Linked DNA regions of Homo sapiens. The protein of the gene in region 1 interacts with the protein of each later gene in a pairwise test. Each region holds a gene or a part of one and is shown on either strand. Other genes may lie near its edges.

Region 1 (3,754 bases):
ATGTGAGATTTCACAAAGCTTCCTTTTCCTCTAAGAGCAACCTTCAATAAATTACTTTAATGTAAATTCCAGAGCACAGAGATCATGTCTCATGCTTTTTTATGGTCCTGCTCCCAACCTCCATGCTGAGCTTAATCCTTTGTCAAGAGAGGAGCTCAATAAAACTTTTGGCGAGAAAAATAGTTATTCAAGGGACAAATATAATTTCATTGGTGCTACCTACCTGTGATCTGATTTTCTATTTCCCCTTGCATGTGCAAAGACTCCATATAGACGGTGCGGTTGCCAATAAATCTTGCACATGCAATCCCTCTGTATGGCTGACAGAATCCATCTTCTTCATACTCATCTCTGAAAGAAAGCATAGACAGACATTAGCTGATGCACCACATACATACAGGGCACAGCAAGCTCTGACTGCGCGATACCCTAAATAGTCACTAGGGGGCACAGTTGGGCACAATATACAAAAGACTGGGCTAAGGAATTGGGCTTTTGCTCAGTTCTTAAAACATCTGTTGGTCACATTGGTCAAGTTTCCTACACCCCCAGAAAGTCATCCTGAAGCACAAAATCATCCTTAAATATGGGAGAAAATGCTTTTATTTTCGCAGCTGGTGGTGGGCTGGAAGATGATGTAGTTATAGGAGTAAAGAGGAAATGAGTTGGAAATCTGGGCACATGTTCTACAGTTTTTTGTTTTTTAAGCACAGATTATTTCTGCTTCATTTGCTACAAAGGCGTGGGCGAACAGATCCACTCCAACTGACACGTCAATTAGGGGGATCCATGGGGTGAGAAGCTGGGTGCAGCTGGAAAGAAACCCGAGGGTAGCCCAGTTAGGTGACTCTTCACTGCTGAACCTCCATTATCTCTACCCTGCCCAAAGAGGACCAGGGCAAACCATAGTCTGGAGAGTTTGAATTGAGTCACTAAATCCAAGGAAATCTAGAGAAAATGTCCATGGAAAGTTTGCTTTCATGCTTCTCTACAATTTAAAAAAATAGTCTTATTAAAATTTTGCGGCCTCAAAATTATAAGACTTTTTTTATAAGGAGGGGTAATAGATTTCATCTTGAAGACAGAGGGACACCAGAAATGACATGATTCATGTGCCAGGTAAAAGGACTGGAGATCTAAGGCTGGAGATGAAGACCCAAGATGGCAGGCTCAACCTGAAAGGGCAGAGGCTACCATCTCCCACGAGGGCCTACGATGAGCACAAGATCCCTCGAGTGCAGAACATCCAGCTGTTTCTCAAAGGCAGACCATAGCCAAACCAAAGTCTGCCTGCCACGTGTATAAGTTGACTTCAACCCTGGATGCTCCTCCTCAATATATCATCTCAAAAAAAAAAAAAAAAATACACCGTTTTTCCCCTTTGGTTTCTTCTAAGTAAAAATCCCTCAGAGCAAAGTCAGGAGAACAAAATTCTCTTCCTGAGTTTAACATTTGGGCATCCTTAGGCAAGCTGTCTGAGCCCTCTGAGCCACAATTTTCTCATCTACAAGTTGGACACAGTAACTGACTTCTCTGCCCTACATGGGAAAGTCATTATGATCCCATCAGATAATGTAAAAGCTTTTTTAAATTGTAGAGATAATATATGGCTATTCTTAAAGTATTTACAATGACCAAAGGGACATTTATTTAAAAGACAGTTATTTACTAAGCTCCCACATCGTAAGAGGCACTGCGGTTAGTGCTGTGGTGCTCACTTCCCAGCTTGAAGGTCTAGCGTAGGAGTCTAGAAAGTCAAAGTATAGGAGCAAACCAAGTGGAAAAATCACCTGATAGGACACTAATTTTCTGCTTCTCTCTACTCCCATTCATTAAAAGAATCATTTTAAAGGTGAAAGTGGGGGAAGTATCTTCAGTTTAGTACTGAAAATAGTTTGTGTTGCAAAGCTCTTAAAAACTTAACCTTTAAATACACATACAAATGAATATATCATATACCTGACATAAAGACATTGAAATTTTACTGTTGCACAATCCTGCAAGCACTCCACATGTTTACTTTCATAAATCCTAGAGTAATGCTGAAGCCTTTTTGGCTTAAATTTTACTTGGGTTGTAAAATTAACCCAACTTTTATTGGGTAACTAATACCATAAACCTATGGGGAGAAAGAAGGTTCTTGATGACCCACACTTGGATCTTGGAAACCTAAGTACAGAGACCAGAATACACCCCCATGCCACCCCCCTGCTATTACAGATGATGCTTTTCTATCCCTAGGCATTAGCAGAGCCCTGGATTTTTAAGGTGTCATTATGAGAACACTTCTTTCTCCCCCACATTAAACTCTCAAGGCTTCAATTTATATCTCTTGGGAGGACAAAACCCTGGAATTACCCCCAGATATAAATCCCCAACCTACTGGGAGTTCCCATATTTTATGTGTGAGGCTTAGGCTAAACTTCTTACCACCTTTCCAGTTCAAGACTCTTAAAAAGACTCTTTGAATACTTTTTTTCAGAATAAAATGGAATGCAATTCCTTGGCTGCACATTTCTTATCAAAGGCTTAGAACTGCAGGTGTATTAAATTTTTGACTATTCCCAGAATTCCTACTATCCTGTTCAGTCTCCTGGGAGACAGATTTTTTAAAAAAGAACACAAAAAAACCCCAAAACCAGTATGTACTGTTATCTGCTGGGGAGTGGTTCTGTCTTGGCTCCTTATGAGAATCGCCTTGGCAGCACACTGGGAGGCCGAGACGGGTGGATCATCTGAGGTCAGGAGTTCAAGACCAGCCTAGTCAACATGGTGAAACCCCATCTCTACTAAAAATACAAAAATTAGTTGGGTGTGGTGGCAGGTGCCTGTAATCCCAGCTAGTCAGGGGGCTGAGGTAGGAGAATCACTTGAACCCAGGAGGTGGAGGTTGCAGTGAGCCAAGATCATGCCACTTCACTCCAGCCTGGGTGACAGAGTGAGACTCCATCTCAAAAAAAAAAAAAAAAAAGAATGAAAGAATCTCCTTGAGAAGCTTTAGGAAATACGAATGCCCAGGCCCCACCTTAGACCTATTAAATCATAGTCTCTGGGGATGAGGCTTAGGTATCTATGCTTAAAGAAACCTATCAGGTGATTTGAATGTGGTTGAGAACCACAACACTGAAAAAAACCAAACATGTATTAAGTGTCTGCTGCTCTGGGCTGGGTACTGTGTTAGGTGCTTTCTTCAAAGCAGCCCCTGATGAGCTATTATCCTTATTTTACGAGAGAGAAACTCAAATTCAGAGAAGTTAAGTAACTTGCTCAAATTCACAAAGTCAGTCTGTGGTGGAGCTAGGATTTAAACTGAAACTCAAGATGAGGCCACTATCCCATGTTGTTAGATCTGTAACTATGTTCTGCGTTTCAATACTACTCTTAGTTAAATCAGCCTACTCGAGAAAGAGACCTTATAACGAGTCTTGATTCTGTATCAGATACTGCTAAGTTTTATATACTTACAAAACAGATACTAAGTCATTTTATCCCAACAACAATCTTATAAAAAAAGGTAAAGATGTAATTATTCCTGTTCTACAGATGAGAAAAGTGAGACTCAGAAAGCATAGAGAACTTATCCAAAGTTACGCAGCAAGTAGAAGAGCTAGATTTGCTCTAAATAGTGTTTCTAACCACACTCTATAACTTCTTTCCAAGTGGCTTGGCAATGGAGTTTTTGCACTGCTTAGAGGGGCTTTCTGCTGTGGAGAAGCTTTGGTGCATTCTGGGTGGTAAAAGGTTTTCTTTTAAA
Region 2 (3,754 bases), on another chromosome or scaffold:
AAAAAAAAAAAAAAAAAAGCTGTATTTCATGAATATTTTTATATGTAACTATTTTAAAGTATTTTGTGACATTACCTAGCATAGAAAGTAGTTAAGTAGTATAATTCTAACTCTCGCTTTTAAAAATGCAACATACAGTATTTTATATTTTCTGTGAAATATGCCTTTCACAATTCACTGATTTTAGTAAAAATTAGCAAACAAATAACTGGTGGCATCAGAATAATAAAAGTTTGTTTAATCCAAAATTATAATAGCAAAATTTATTCAAGTAATAGCATAAAATGTGAAATCATGATTATGGTAAGATAATTTTCAGGAGTATGATATTCCTGAATTTTCAGTTATTCTTCACACTGTACCTGATTTCTTTTTGTTTTTCCCTTGCTGAATTAATTTCAGAATTGGAATGAAATGGAATACTGCTATTATATTAGCAGCTTTAAAGTTTTATTGTAAAATGTATCGTATATTAGCAGAATTGATGGTTAAGTGTACTGACATTTCACTATGCTATACTCAAACATTGATGGTGAAATAGAGTTTTGGGAACTATTTAATTTTTGTAGTTTGTAGTTGGCTGTCATAAAATTTGCAGAATGACAGAACTGATCATCAGCTTCTAGTGGCTGATCTAACAAGAACAGGTGAAGAAAAAGGTACATGAGCTTCATAATGTGTATTTTTTCTTTGTTTTTGTTGGTGTTTACTTACATCAATACATTGAGTTAAAAAAATGGGTTTTCATCTTTTGGATTAATTTAAGTATGCTAAAGCCATTTTAGAATCTTTACAAGTAAAATGTTTCTAGGCCGGGCACAGTGGCTCACTCCTGTCCCAACATTTTGGGAGGCTGAGGCAGATGGATTGTTTGAGACCAGCCTGGGCAACATAGCAAGACCCTGTCTCTACAAAAAATAAAGTTAGCTGGGCTTGGTGGTGTGTGCACCTGTAGTTAGCTGCTTGGGAGGCTGAGGTGGGAGGATCGCTTGAGCCAGGGAGGTCAAAGCTGCAGCGAGCTGTGATTGCACCAGTTTGCTCCAGCCTGGATGACAGAGTGAAACCACGCCTCTATTTTTTAAAAAATTCTGATGTGACTTAATCTCTTTGTGTCCATTTGATTTGAGATGATTGACACTTTTGAACATTTCCATCCATATTCCTTTTCTTAAAGACTACCTAGAAGACTAACAAGCGTGGCCAGGCGTGGTGGCTCACGCCCATAATCCCAGCACTTTGGGAAGCCAAGGCAGGCAGATCACTTGAGAACAGCCTGGCCTGGCCAACGTGGTAAAACCCAGTCCCTACTAAAAATACAGAATTTAGCCAGGTGTACTGGCCGGCCAAAAAAGACTAACAGACCAGATACTGGAATCAGCGTTATGGTGAAAAGAACCCTTTACTAAATTCTTGATGATGTTACAAAATTTTCCAAAAGTGTAATCTATATAGTGTATTTATTTCTCAGAGTATTTAAAGATTTTGAGATTTAGTTTTTAGTAACATATAACATCCTAGGAAACATAAATACTGTACAATAACTTATATACTTTTTTTCTTTTTAGTTTTCTTTTTTCATTTCTTTTTTGCCCCTCGAGATCTCATACTTCGTAGTTTTCCTTCAAATTACAGGGTGCTTTATTTCTCCCCTTTGGTTTAACTTTAATAACAACCATAAACACTTTACTTCTGAATTAATGGTAAACCATGACACAGAAGAGTGCTTAAATACATTTTTTTCTTTTTGTTTTACTATAACTAATCACATCTACAATATCTTGTTATTGCTTGGCATAACATATACCTTTTATAATAATACTCTTCATGGCCGGGCACAGTGGCTCATGCCTGTAATCCCAGTACTTTGGGAGCCCGAGGTTGGTGAATCACTTGAGGTCAGGAGTTCGAGACTAGCCTGGCCAACATGATGAAACCCTGTCTTTACCAAAAAATACAAAAATTAGCCGGGTGTGGTGGCACATGCCTGTAGTCCCAGCTACCCCGGAGGCTGTGGTGGAGAATTGCTTGTACCCGAGAGGTGAAGGTTGTAGTAAGCCAAGATCACGCCACTGCACTCCAGATTGGGCGAAAGAGTGAGACCCTGTCTCGAAACAAAAATAATAATACTCTTTGTAATAACTTGTTTAACCTCAAGAACCTTGTAGCTTAATCAATTGTAGTATTTTAATTTGTTAGTTCATATATTATACATTTGACATGGTTTATAACATTTAAAACACACTTTACTAATTTAAAACTTTTGATTTATCACACAGTTTAATATTAACTTGTAAATATAAAATGGATTCAAACTTTTCTCTTGGAGAATGTTTAAGTATCATCAGTATTCTATTTTTTAGCTTTAAATTGATTCATTTCTTGAAAATTAAAAATCTTAAAGTTTAGAAACATAACACTTCTTGGAAAATTGTTTTGCATCCTTGTGAACAAAAGAAGATCCAGTTAAATCCGATCTCATACTTAGAGGAGACAGACAAACTTTGGAAGCCATGTATTGACTATTAAGGAACTTGTCTTTCTCTTAGAGATGGTACCAATTACTGGTAGTGATATAGGGAGGATAAGACTTGTCTCTAGGATTGCTGTGATTATTGTCTACGTAGAATGGCCTTCACTTCAGAATCAGTTGTGAATGAAAAGTACATTTGTGTGCTAGAAATAGGAAAAAACCTTGTCTTTTATAGAAAACTTTTAAAATGCAGTTATGTTATCAGGTAGATTCAAACGTATAATATACAAGAAAATAAAACAAATGAATAAGTGTTGTTTGCCAGAGAAGAAGCAGTTCTGATCAATAATATGTAGAGTAATTTGTAAGAGTTTGAAGGCTTGCGAAGCGCTTTTAAGCCTGAGAGTAATGTCAACTCATTTTTAAATCTAATCGCATTTTATTTTCTTGATTGTAGGTATCAAGAGCACTCCTCGCATTGAAAAGGGCTGGTTACTGGATGTTCTTATGAGTAGGAGAATCTAGAAGTGTCAGCATGGGTGTTTAACCTATTTGGGCAGTGTTTTTCCTTTTCCTTGTTCTGACTAAAGCATTTATCTCTGAGGTGGGGAAATGGCATTTTCTGTTGAACACAGGTGGCCTTTCTTAGTCCCTTAAAAAGAGGACATGACTGGGCCTGGTGGCTCACGCCTATAATCCTAGCACTTTGGGAGGCCGAGGTGGGCGGATTGTCTGAGCTCAGGAGTTCGAGACCAGCCTGGCAGCACGGTGAAACCCCATCTCTACTAAAATACAGAAAATTAGCTGGGTGTGGCGGCATGTGCCTGTAATCCTAGCTACTCAGGAGGCTGAGACAGGAGAATCGCTTGAACCCAGGAGGTGGAGGTTCAACCCAGCTGAAATCGCGCCACTGCATTCCAGCCTGGGCAAAAGTGAGACTCCGTCTCAAAAAAAACAAAAGTGGGGGTGGGGGAACATAATTAATTCAAAGCACTCCAAATGTTAAGATTATATAGGAGATTTTGTTGAGCTTTGGGAGGCTTTCTGCTTTTATTTACTCTGAGCTACCAACCCACTGAGAAGTAAAGAATTCAGAACAGTCTAATAGTATTTAGTCTGTAACCCTCCAGCCAATTCTTATGTTCACTGAGTGCCTTCTGTGTGCAAAGGCCCCCATTTCATGCCAGTATCTGAACAAAACAGACAAAATCCCAAATCCTTGTCGTTGACGATCTTGCATTCTGTTAACCAGCAACTCACAGTTTACATTACAGCTGAACTCCT

The links. Proteins that work in one complex are often made in the same cells at the same time.
Region 2: the proteins of ROR1 (region 1) and PPM1B interact in a two-hybrid assay, tested with the Homo sapiens proteins (one study listed by BioGRID and IntAct).

Annotation. Positions count from the first base shown.
Region 1 is NC_000001.11:64,133,966-64,137,719, reverse strand, and holds part of ROR1 (inactive tyrosine-protein kinase transmembrane receptor ROR1 isoform 1 precursor), read right to left. Parts: intron 352-3,754; coding exon 224-351; intron 1-223. UniProt on the Homo sapiens protein: Has very low kinase activity in vitro and is unlikely to function as a tyrosine kinase in vivo. Receptor for ligand WNT5A which activate downstream NFkB signaling pathway and may result in the inhibition of WNT3A-mediated signaling.
Region 2 is NC_000002.12:44,171,835-44,175,588, forward strand, and holds part of PPM1B (protein phosphatase 1B), read left to right. Parts: intron 1-3,754.